2 linked regions of the Homo sapiens genome follow. The protein of the gene in region 2 interacts with the protein of the main gene of each other region in a pairwise test. Each region holds a gene or a part of one and is shown on either strand. Other genes may lie near its edges.

Evidence for each region.
Region 1: the proteins of SGPL1 (region 2) and RNASE10 interact in binary tests that used the Homo sapiens proteins (3 or more experiments, as listed by UniProt).

The regions. Positions count from the first base shown.
Region 1 is NC_000014.9:20,508,522-20,514,398, reverse strand, and holds the end of RNASE10 (inactive ribonuclease-like protein 10 precursor), read right to left. Parts: intron 3,933-5,877; 5' UTR 3,928-3,932; coding exon 3,277-3,927; 3' UTR 515-3,276; downstream 1-514. UniProt on the Homo sapiens protein: Secreted proximal epididymal protein required for post-testicular sperm maturation and male fertility. May be involved in sperm adhesion to the egg zona pellucida. Does not have ribonuclease activity.
Region 2 is NC_000010.11:70,867,930-70,874,958, forward strand, and holds part of SGPL1 (sphingosine-1-phosphate lyase 1), read left to right. Parts: intron 1-415; coding exon 416-504; intron 505-1,862; coding exon 1,863-1,968; intron 1,969-3,118; coding exon 3,119-3,217; intron 3,218-3,907; coding exon 3,908-4,057; intron 4,058-5,421; coding exon 5,422-5,660; intron 5,661-7,029. UniProt on the Homo sapiens protein: Cleaves phosphorylated sphingoid bases (PSBs), such as sphingosine-1-phosphate, into fatty aldehydes and phosphoethanolamine. Elevates stress-induced ceramide production and apoptosis.

The sequences.
Region 1 (5,877 bases), on a different chromosome or scaffold from region 2:
CTGGACAGTAATGTTAATAAGCAGCAAAGCTCAGAACAACTTAAAAAAAATTTTTTTTTGAGACAGGGTCTCACTCTGTCACCTAGGCTGGAGTGCAGTGGTGCAATCATAGCTCACTACATCCTTAATCTCTGGGGCTCATGCAATCCTCACACCTTAGCCTAACCCAAATAGCTAGGATTACAGGCATGTGCCACCACGCCTGGCTAATTTTTCTATTTTTTGTAGAGATGAGGTCTCCCTACGTTGCCCAGGCTGGTCTTGAACTCCTGGGCTCTAGTGTTCTTCCCACCTCAGCCTCCCAAAGTGTTAGGATTACAGGCATAAGCCACCACACCTGGCCAAAAACTTGTACAGAGTGTTTTGAAGACAATATTTGAGTGTCTTCCAAACAGTAGAGGAGACATCCCTTGGCCCATAGGTAGATAGTCATTGATTAATAAATGTGTCAATGAAGAATATAGAAGAAACTTATAATACAGATCCTTCCACAAAGGTGCTAGTGGCCTAACTAGGATCATATCCAGTATACTCAAATTAATTAAGGCTAATTAAATAGTATATATAGATCCCACAATTTCTTACTTGAAACTTTTGGGGCCAATGCATTTTGGCCAACATTTTCAGATTTTAAAAAGCACTATTGTATGTTAATGTGTGTATGTTTATATCATATATGACTAACACACTCTTAGAAGGACCTACTCATAACAAAACACAGTGATATTTCCACAGTGAAATATGTAATGGTCACATAGCATAAATAAACAAGATAAATAGCCTCACATTGTCAATCTAGTCAGGTGTCATATCTAAATGAGTTTTGGGGCCACTTTGAAAAAAACTTTCCATTTTCAGAGCTTCAGAGATTTGGGTACTGTAGATAAGGGACTGGGATCTGTCATATGGGCTCAACACAGATCCTGGAAGTGTAGAGAGGAAGCTACATTGGAATTAGAAGACTCGGTGAAAGTCTTGTGAATGAGGCAGAATTTGAGCTACAGTGAGTTAATTTTCTGCCCCTGGGAGGTGAGGTCCCCACAATGCCTTGTCACCCTGTTATCAGCCATGGAAGCTATATTTTCCTGCTTGAGCCACTAGGCGCCTGTGGAGTATTTTGTAAATTGCTTTCCTGCGATAGTCTACGTGGTCAGATTAAACAAAAAAAACAAAAACAAAACAAAACAAAACAAAAGAAAAACATGACCCACTGAGATTTGCCCAAAGTGAAGACCCGGAGGAGATGAGTATGCCCATCAAACAGTGCCGGAACGCTTAGGGAGAGAAGCTGGACGGAAGCTGAAGAGGATGGAGCCACATCTGAATACTAGAGAATATAGGCTTTAATCCCTGGCTAATTCCATTCTCTTAATAATTCACTCCATACAATGGAGATCTTTCACATTTCATTCCTAAATCCTTGGTTTACCTACCAGACAGATTGCTAACGTGGCCGATTTTCTCTGACACCTATTCTTCTTTCCCCTCTTCCCATCCTATTTCTCATTTTTTCCCCCTTACCTTAGATAATCTTTTGTCTCTTTCCCCGGAGAGGGATTCGCCCTCAGGAAGCATAGGAATCTGCCTTGGCTGGGTCATCACCTTTCACCACTTCATTACCACCTCTAAAACATCAGGCCAGCCCACAGATGGAGACATACCTCCTGTCCACTATTATTAGAATTCCCTGGGAGACAACACTGTTCCTAAGAGGTTATTGCTGGAAGTGAGTCAGAGGTATAAGGGATATATTGAATCAGGGACGTCTAGGAGGATACTAAAGTGGTTGCCTGTCTGTGAAAACAGGAAGGATAAAGAGAATAAAGACAGAAAGAACAGGAAAATGCAAGCCAGGTCAGAGTAAAGCAAACCGTTCTTCCCTTCAGTCTCCCATTTATGTATGTCCCTGACTTGGGTCTATAATAGTCTAGGAATGTGAAGCAGAGAAAAACTCTAGGGGAAGGAAATCTCAAAATTCAGTCACACGGTGAATCCTTACAGCTATGTTCTCAGATTCCTCTTCTCCCTATGCATGACTAACTACACTATTTCTCATTTGAATTTAGAGGAAATAGGCTGAGGGCAGCCACTTGCATCTTCTGTGTATCCAGCCACACAGCTTCTCTTCTCCTTGATTAAGTTTGATACCTTCTCTGCTGAAATTATTCTTTCACTAACTTTCTTGTTCTTTAGAGCAATAAAGCGGAAACGATGCTAAATGAGAAAAAGACTGTCTCCCATCCCATTCATCCCACATCTACTGGGCACCTCATATGAGCACTATTCTGCTTCTGGACATAATTCAAAAAAGATTTCTCACTCTCTCTTTCTCTTTCTCTCTTTTCCTCTCTCTTTTTCTCATTCTCTTGACCCACCCCCCTCTAACTCCCTGTGCCAGACTCTGACTATAGGACGAACATCTGCTTGCATGACTGACTATAGGACCAACATAGCATAAGTGATCAGTATCGGCTGACTGAATCTCTAAAAGGATCCAGATAAAGAGAAGAGCGGGCCCAAAAAGAAAAAGAAGAGGAAAAGGAGAACAGAGAAAGTAAGGAGAAAAAGAAGCAAAGGACAAAAGCAAAGGTAAGAGATGAAAACAAGAAGCCAAGCAAGGAGGCTGCTAGTAAAAGGTGGGAAGAAAGAGAAAAGGGCAGTGAAGGGTCAAGAAAAAAGAGTTCTATTCTTGCTCCAGCCCATCTTCTATCTTGCTCTACAGCACCACACCACCTCCCCAGCAGACCCCCATACCTAGGCCCTAAATTTTTCCAAGCTCGGAAAAGGAAGCCTGTTCCACATGGTCCTCCAGAAGCCATTACAGATAGAATCACTTTAACTTCATCCGCAATAGAGAAGTGCAGTTGTGCAAAACCCAAGAGTCTTATGTGATTGTTGTAGAGGCTCAGGGTGGGCAGCAGGGAAGAACATGGGTAAAGGATACACTAAACTCTTCCAGTCCACATCCAGAGACAAACTCAGAGCAGAGCAGGAAACAAATGGATGGCCAGGACTACAGTACGGACTACAGCAGCTCTTCACTTACTCCTTTCCAGGGTAAGGGAAAGGAGAGGCAGAGAGCTTAGAGAAACTAGGCATCATCACCTTATCCTACCATCTCTAATCCTAGGAACAAAATGCAAGTTGGGTGACCCATAGGGCAAGGAAGAATTCCATCTGCATGATACCTAAGATCAGGAGAACTATATGAGAAAGAAGAAGTAAAAAAGGAAGAGGAACAGGAGAAGGTGAAGAGAAAAAAGATGATGAGTTGCTTCATTGTCCAGTTGGTAACTGGCGCTTCATGTCATTACAGGTTATAATAATGTGCTTTTTTATAACAGAAGTTAGGTAATTGCAGTTAGGAGTGACCTGGTCTGGTTGGGACAGCTCGCACAATGTCAAATCAAAAGGTCGGGAGCTTTTGTGACATTTTCCCCCCTTGAGCTCACAGGCAATGACAGGACTGTTACAGACAGCTTTGACTGTGTTTAGATCCTCATGGATGAATGCATACTGGGCTATGCAACTCTGACTGGGCTCCTTCATCTTGTGTGCCATCATATCATTGCATTCTCTATCTGTCTGGTCAAGCCTAAGATAGTCTTTGTTGCTCTGAAAGAGAGCTGAGGCTCTGAGCATCTTGTTACCCCCAACCTCATCTTCACCGAGGATGGGATCTTCTGGCCAGCCAGGTTGCACCACTTCTTTGTTGCTAAGCACCAGCGTTTCTGTGGTTTGGGTGCCGTCTCCCTCCTCAGTGGCCTCAGCTTTGTCCTGTGAGTCACTGGACCAAAATTCATTGAGCGGTTGATCACTCTCCTCCAAGACTGCTGTAGCCATATGAAGTCCCAACCCCAGGCCCATCCCCAGGCCCAGCAGCAGCATCAGCAACATGAAAAAGATCTGCACCAGATTCAGCTTCATTTTGCCTGGAGAGGAAGCGGGAAATGGAAGAACGTGACTTTGAGATCAAAATTGGCTCTAGTAGAGACTGTAATCTCACTAAGCCCTACAGCATTGTATCTGGGGTCTCCTGTGTCTTCTGCACATTACTCTACCCTCTTCAAGGCAGCGATTTCTCTTTCCATTCCCATTTCTCTTGTTCCTCCCTACCACATTCCCTGTTGCTGTGTAATAAAATGTGGAAGTTTCCTCATGTTTCTTCTCTTGAAGAGTAGGGAGATGACCAAGGGAAGCAGTTCTGAGGTAATTTACATATGGGAAATCAGTGAGGAAAGTTGACATCAATTGATTCTTTTTTTTTTTTTTTTCCTTTTGAGACAGGATCTTGCTCTGTCACCCAGATTGGAGTACAGTGGCACCATCATAGCTCACTGAAGCCTCAATCTCCCAGGGTCAAGTGATCCTTCTGCTTCAGCCTCCCAAGTAGCTGGGATCACAGGCACACACTACCATGCCCAGCTCTTTTTTTTTTTTTTTTTGAGACGAGTCTCGCTATGTTGCCCAGGCTGGTCTCAAACTCCTGCGGTCAATTAATCATCCCACTTTGGCCAAAGTGCTGGGATTACAAGTGTGAGCCACCATGCCCCTGACATCAATTGATTCTTAAACAGAAATTTGTGCCAAATAACCAGAGAATGATTGAGAAGACAAGCGTGTACAGTGTCACACTCTCCTTTAGGGAAATTCTTGTAGAAAGCCTTATTGTCAATATAGGACTAGATTTACCACAGAAGACCATCTCTTTATTTTTAACCCAAATTTGCTTTTGCTTATTCAAATATCTATTACTCTTCTTGTTACCCACCTTCCCCACAAAAGATAAAAAGGAATAGAAAAAGTACCACAGTCCATTCTTACTCCTAAGCTGAGGCTGGAGGGAAGATGTCCAACTTTACATCTCAGGCCCCTGCTAAAGCTACATCTTGTTAAGCCAGATTCCTTCTACTATTAAAGATCTCTTAACATCTGAGTAGTCTTGCTGATTAGGTTTATACTCTCAGGGAAGAAATGGAATAAGAATGAAACCAAAGAAAATCAAACAATTGACCTGCTGGGGGTTCCCCTACTCATAAAGATTCTAAGGAGGCCAGGCTTGGTGGCTTCTGCCTATAATCCCAGCACTTTGGGAGGCCAAGGCAGGTGGATCACCTGAGGTAGGAGTTCAAGATCAGCCTGGCCAACATGGTGAAACCCCATCTCTACTAAAAATACAAAAATTAGCCGGCATGGTGCCACGCACCAGTAGTCCCAGCCACTGGGGAAGCTGAGACACGAGAATTGCTTGAACCCGTGAGAAGGCCAAGATGGTGCCACTGCACTACAGCCTGTGTGACGGAGTGAGATTCTGTCTCAAAAAAAGAAGATCCTAAGGAGAGCTGAGCATGCATCTTTGTCTTGCTAGGCCAGTCTCATCCCCTTAACAAAGAGACACATTCCCTGCCAGAAAAAAAAAAAATTGCTATGAAGAACATTATTGAGGCAATTGATAAAAGTATGATCTCTGTAGTAGATAAGAGTATTATGGCAGTCCCCCTTATCCACAGGGAATATGTTCCAAGACCCCAGTGAATGTCTAAGGCCCTATATGTACTGTTCTCTTCCTATACATACATATCTACATAAGTTTAATTTATAAATTAGTAATATATATTAACAACAACTAATAAAATAGAATAATTATAACAATATACTGTTCAAAATTTGCAGATAAAAGATTCTTTCTTACTGTAGATTTTACCAATTGCAGCATGTTTTTCCCCCCTTTCCTTATTAAGTTGAGACACTTTCACCTTTTCACTCAAACGGAGCACTTTACGGGTTCTTTTTGACGTGTCTGAATTGCCAGCATCATCATTCTTGCACTTTGCGGCTATTACTAGGTAAAATAAGGGTTATGTGAACACAGGCGCT
Region 2 (7,029 bases):
GCACAGTTTACTAGAATTGTAATCACAATTTCACATTCTTTAACAGGTATTGAAAATTTAAATTAAAATTCTGATATTTTTGAATGGCATAAAATGCCCTATCTTATCTGAAAATTGAAAAATTAATACAGAAATGTAAATGGATTGTGAATAGGTGGGATCTGGCCAAGTGTGCATTTGTCTAGGCAGTGCTGAGTTTCTGCTCATTATTTAGTAGCTTTCATTCTTCACCTGAGCCAAAATTAGGCTTAGCCAATAAAGCCAAATTTTCCTTCTGGAAGACATGGCAGTGTCTGCCTTGCAGCATGCATCCAAGACCTTATCTGTTTCTGTATCAAACATTGTCAAGATCAGGGCATGAAGAGCCGGGGCATTCCTGACTCCCCCAACAGATGGCATCTCTTCTTTATTATAGGTGACTTCTGGGGGAACAGAAAGCATACTGATGGCCTGCAAAGCATATCGGGATCTGGCCTTTGAGAAGGGGATCAAAACTCCAGAAATGTATGTATGTGTGGCTGTTTTGTCCCCTTTTGGATTTGTCTGTCTGGAGTACAGCTTTATGAAACTAAAGCAGATAATCCATTTTCCTGCTGCTTCTCTTCCTCTGGTAATTCTGGTCCCCTTTCCCCCTGTCCTAGCCCCTCTGCCCTTATCCTTTTACATTCAGTAAAATTCTAAATGGATCAGCCAGTTATTTTTAAAGATCATTCCCATCCCGCCCCACCCCCAGATCATGCATAGTATATACTACAAGCAAAAATAAGATCCTTTTTCCAAAAGTGAGAGTTTGAGGACTACATCTTTGAATCCTGTGATATTTGCAAATTATTTGGAGCCTAAAGAAACCTCTCTAGGTACTTTAGTTCTGCTTACCTTAGAAAGTTACTTAATATTATAGGCTGCCTCAGGGTACTCTCTGGGAAAACTTTAGTGTGAGGGCTGTTTTCTGGGAGGAAGAATAAAAATATCTTTTTGAGATTTACCCACATTGCCTTCCTTGGACATAAATTTGATGTTTAGTTACATTATTTTTTCCTAGACTGTCCCCTTGTACAGTATGTTTATCCTACATCTTAATATTTTTACTGCAAGTATTACTTGACAATGGGGATTTATTGCATATGGTCTCATGCTGTGGTTCATATGTAGCATAAGAGAATAAACCAGGCTGCCATTCTTTCTTCATATGTCGATCTTTGGTGCTTGGTACTTCCTCAGTAGTAGAGATTTTTCTCCTTAGAGGGAACAGATTCGTTGTATGAATGGAGTAGTTGAGGAAAGTCTAAAGCAAATACCCGTGACCTCATTTTCTCTTTCAACACTATTTGAAATACTATTTCCAAATGTGTAGGAGAAATGGGGATTTTAGTTTCTTCAGGTTTGTTGTCTTTCAGAGTTGGAAGGGGCCACTGAGCTGATGCTTGGCCGCTGTGTGAACATTTCTGCTTGAACATGTGTTGTGCCGGGAAGCCTTCTTCTCATTCTCACTGAGGTGCCTGTCTTTGGTAGGCAACCGTTAGCCAGCTCTGCCTTGTGTTGCTCTCATCCAAAGTCTCTGTCCCCCAGCTTTCCGCCTGCCAGCCTAGCTTTATGCTTTGGATCCCTCACTGTGGGATCACTTCTGAGTCCTCTTCCTATTGCCAGAATGATTTCCTAAATAGGAGGGAAGTTTCTGCAGAAAATCAGTTGGCCTCTTTTTGGGTGTGCTTAAAAAGAAAAGTAGAGCAGTCTAAACACTTAAATTTTTAATTTGGGGAAAAATAATCAGAACTTACTCCCGGTAATTTAGATTAGCTGCTAATGGTGTTTTCTATTATTTTGGCCTGAGTTACATTATTCTCCTCTTCCCTGTCATTTAGTGTGGCTCCCCAAAGTGCCCATGCTGCATTTAACAAAGCAGCCAGTTACTTTGGGATGAAGATTGTGCGGGTCCCATTGACGAAGATGATGGAGGTGGATGTGCGGGTGAGTCCCTCTGGAGGGCCCACTGTCTGTGCTGGGCCCTGACAGCAGAAGGGCCCTCCTGTTGACTAGCCGTTTCCAGTCAGATGGGTCTGACTGCCTTTGATTGTGGCAGCCAGAATATGAAAAACTGCATTGATAGTGGTGATTGACTGCAGCTTCAGTCTTTTCATAGGTTCATGAATTCTGAAAGGGAGGTGATCTAGTCACTAACTTGGGACTTGAGAGACACTGGTTTTGCGGTCAGCGCCATCACTTTTTCTTTCTTTTCTCTATTTGTAAAATGAACATGGACTCACTTCCCCTAAGACTCTTACCATGGCCCGGGCATGGTGGCTCACATCTGTAATCCCAGCACTTTGGGAAGCCGAGGAGGGAGGATTACTTGAACCCTTGAGCCCAGGAGTTTGCGACCAGTCTGAGCAACATAGTGAGACCCCATCTCTACACAAAATTTAAAAAAGTAGCTGGACATGGTGGCATGCACCTGTAGTCCTAGCTACTCGGGAGGCTGGGGTGGGAGGATCACTTGAGCCCCAGGAGGTTGATGCTGCAGTGAGCTGTGTTCACACCACTGTACTCCAGCTTGGGTGACAGAGCAAGACCCTGTCTCAAAAAAAAAAAAAAGACTCTCACTGTGGTTTAGATTGGCTTAAATTAATACCATTGTCATTATGATAGTGATTATTTTTATGCCTCACATTTGTGTAGAGGAGTTTTCTAGTTTCAGTGTTCTGTCAGAATCCCATTTGAGCTTTATGACATTCCAGAGAGGTTGATGAAGCTGTTATATTATTGTAGTTCACAGATAAGGAACAGACTGAAGTAGCATACTCAGGGTTTCACTGCTGGTACGTTGTGGGGCTGGGGCTCACATTTGGCTCTTTGGCCTCTTAGCTCAATATTATTTTCGCCCCCACAGCGATTCTGTTCTTATTTTGTGCTCTCAGACTATTCTCCAAATGGACTTACCTGGAGTCACCTGTGTCCTGTCACCGTGGTGGGATGCAGTCTTCTCCCAGTTGGAGTGGTGAAGGAGGGGGTACTGGTGGAACTGGAACTCTAAGCTAGCAGCCCAAATTGCTCTTGGCAGCAGAAGAGAAGAGTAATTGTGACATAGATTCTCATTTTCCTTTAAACTTTAAATCCCTAGGCAATGAGAAGAGCTATCTCCAGGAACACTGCCATGCTCGTCTGTTCTACCCCACAGTTTCCTCATGGTGTAATAGATCCTGTCCCTGAAGTGGCCAAGGTATATGAGAGAAATGGGCTGCTAAGGCAGGCAAATGGATATTTTAAAACAAAGCCTAATGGGGCAGTACTTGGCAAATAGAAGCGATTTTTTTTTTGTTTTTGACCACAGTAGTGATAAGTAGCTCTCATCAGCCCTAGGGGAAGCCCTGCAGCTCAGTTGCAAGCCTTTAAAAGTTGCTAGTCTCTGCTGTGGGGGAAGATAGTACAAGGCTGAGGCCTTTTAAACTGGAAATTCTGAAATAGGATTGCCTTCTAGATTGAGATCTGGAAATAATCTGCATGTAGGAATGTGCCCACCAAAAGGGTGATATTCCACATGCTGCCCCTCAGCGCCTCCCTTTCCCTCACGCCTCATCCTGCAGTGACTGAGGCAGGACCTTTCCCTTGTGCGAGAGGCAGCCTAAATCAGAGCTCTACTCATTTCCTGCTTGATACCGCAGAGCGTTTGAGGTCATGCATATTTAAATATAAAATTGATACCATATTTCAGATGAATTATTTTGAAGGGAAAATACATTTGAAAGATAAATTTTGTTGGGAATGTTAAAAATAGCCATTTTTTAAAAACATGGGAGGCATAATACAAAATAGCCTTGTGTTTATAGCCCATCTTTCCACCCATGTCTTGCAGTTTTTATTATAGGGCTATAAAGGAAATTCTCTTATGTTCTTTGTTTTTTGGAACAAGCTGGCTGTCAAATACAAAATACCCCTTCATGTCGACGCTTGTCTGGGAGGCTTCCTCATCGTCTTTATGGAGAAAGCAGGATACCCACTGGAGCACCCATTTGATTTCCGGGTGAAAGGTGTAACCAGCATTTCAGCTGACACCCATAAGGTGAGCTAAGGAGGAGATCAAGTGTTACCAGTTGATTATTTTGACTATTATTGATAAAATAAATTGGTAGCTTCCCCGCAAAGTATAAAATTAACTATAGAATTCTCATCAGATGCTTGTTTTAAACTCTCTCTTTGCCGTCACCAGATCAGCTGGTTCAGGTGATGGGGTATAGTGGTAGAGGTGACAAGCAGTAGTGAAAATGAACCTGTTACCTTTATCTCAAATTGGCTAAGAGAATTTCTGTATCCACTGACTGTGTGTAACTAGAACATGCTAGTGTAGTGGCCCTTGTTAAAAAAGCTCCCTGAAGCCTTGAGCTGATTTGAGGTGGAGGGTAGAGGAGTGTGAGGGTTGGTAGTGGAGTTCCCATGCTGGTAGATAACATTAGAGCTGCTGTGCAACTGGGCTCCTGAGCGTACATGACGGGAAAATGTTGACGGAAGAGTCCTTTGGAAAATGGGAAGAACCTGTGTGCTCAGGAACATTCAGCATTTGAGATGGCCACGCCTGCCACCCTTGGTGGACTGAGACAAAGTCTAGATCAGTTGATAACGCTATTGAATATACATCCAGATGTGGAAGAAGTATTAGCAGCCTCAGGAATGTGTACCTTGTTTTGATTGCATTTTCAGAGCTTGTTTTAAACTCAAGTATATTAAAGACTTGTTTTTCAAAATCGGTGTGATCTGCAGCCGATTTTCAGTCAGCATCTGTTTTTTCCTTACCATCCAGATAGCTCCTGTGTCCTTTTCCCATAACCATCCATTTCTGGATGGTTCAGGTAATGAAATTAGTTCCACGTTAGTTTTAATAAGAGTTAATTAGGGGGTCAGATGTTCTATAAGGAAACCAGTTACATAGTTAATTTTAAAGCTGGATTAAGTAGCTTTTAGTTTCTGAGCACCATTATGTTCTCATAAGCATAATATTCTTAGTAATACTAAGCAAAAAAAGATGGGAAGGGGGTCAGATGGTGATTTTAACTTGAAGTGACAAATTCCATCCTTTCCTGGCTTCCATTGCAAACTTACCCTTGCTTTCATCCTGACATATGGTCTCCAGAGAAATATTTTAAATAAGGTAAACCACATGCTGGGCAAGAGAGGGAGTAAACCGATTAACTGGGCGCTGTTCTTCCCTGGGTCTCAGATTCCTCATTCCTAACAGAGAGAATTTAAACTCCATCCCTTAAGTTCCTACTATCCTTTAGCATTTTAAGTTTGAATCCTTAATGTGAGTGGGAAACATAACAGAGAAACTGAGAAATAAATAGGATTTCCTTTGCATGATGAGAGTTCTGGGACAAGGTCTGCCAGACAGAACTATACTCTCACTTTTCTTGTCTGCTACTTCTTCCACAGTATGGCTATGCCCCAAAAGGCTCATCATTGGTGTTGTATAGTGACAAGAAGTACAGGAACTATCAGTTCTTCGTCGATACAGATTGGCAGGGTGGCATCTATGCTTCCCCAACCATCGCAGGCTCACGGCCTGGTGGCATTAGCGCAGCCTGTTGGGCTGCCTTGATGCACTTCGGTGAGAACGGCTATGTTGAAGCTACCAAACAGATCATCAAAACTGCTCGCTTCCTCAAGTCAGAGTATGTGTGGAAGACTGGGGTTCTGCCTTGTCTATTGCTTTTTTGTCCTAGTAGGCTCAAGGCACCTGCCTGGCTAAGTATCCATAGCCCTAGCCCACCTGTTGTCTCCTGCGATATAGAGGGCTTAGGGCAGCAGCTTAGGGCTTAGGCCAGACCAGCTGGCCTGGGAGAAGAAGCTCCCTTTCTCTGCCCTGACTTTTGGAGGGTCTTTGAGACGGGGGCCTCATTTGTAGTTTATCTCATCTCTATGGATGTCTTAATAACTGGCAGCTCTTACCCTAAGGCTAATGTACAATTTAATGGTTAGGACAGTGATTCCCAAACTTGAGCATGCATTCTAATCACCTGAAGGACTTGTTAAAACACAGGTAGCTGGGCCCACCCCTAGAGTTTCTGATTCAGTGGAACTGGGATGGGCTCTAAAAATTTCCATTTCTGGAGATACTGATGCTACTGCTCCAGGAATCATACTTGAAGAATCATTGGAATAAGAAAATAATTGGAAATGGGCCAGAAGGAATGAGGAAAGGAGGGCAATGAAATCTTGGGTTAAGCCAAGGCCAGAACAGGCTGCATGCTTTGTCTAATGTATCTGTTAACATCTTATCTGCCCATCTCTCTATGTGTCACTTGGATTGGGGAGGCTCTTTAAGTATATTGAGGGGGAAGGAAAGCTGCCTGCAGGCATTTCTCATTTGAGAAAGATCCTTGGCCAGGCACGGTGGCTCCGGCCTGTAATCCCAGCACTTTGGGAGGCCAAGGCAAAAGGATCGCTTCAGCTCAGGAATTAAAGACCAACCGGAGCAACATAGTGAGACATTATCTCTACAACAAATTTAAAAATTAGCCATGAGGCCGGGCGCGGTGACTCATCCCTGTAATCCCAGCACTTTGGGAGGCTGAGGCGGGTGGATCACCTGAGGTCCAGAGTTCAAGACCAGCCTGACCAACAGGGAGAACCCCGTCTCTACTAAAAATACAAAATTAGCCGGGCGTGGTGGCGCATGCCTGTAATCCCAGCTACTCAGGAGGCTGAGGCAGGAGAATTGCTTGAACCCGGGAGGCAGAGGTTGCGGTGAGTTGAGATGGCACCATTGCACTCAAGCCTGGGCAACAAGAACGAAACTCCATCTCAAAAATAAAAAATAAATAAAAATAAAAATTAGCCACATGTGGTGGTGTGCACCTTTGGTCCCAGCTACACAGGAGGCTTAAGGCAAGAGGACTGCTTGAACAGCCCAGGAATTTGAGGTTACAGTGAGCTATGATCACACCACTGCACTCTAGCCTGGGTGACAGAGCAAGACCCTGTCTCAAATAAATAAGCAAACAAATAAATAAAAATTAGATATATATAAAAGGTCCTCCT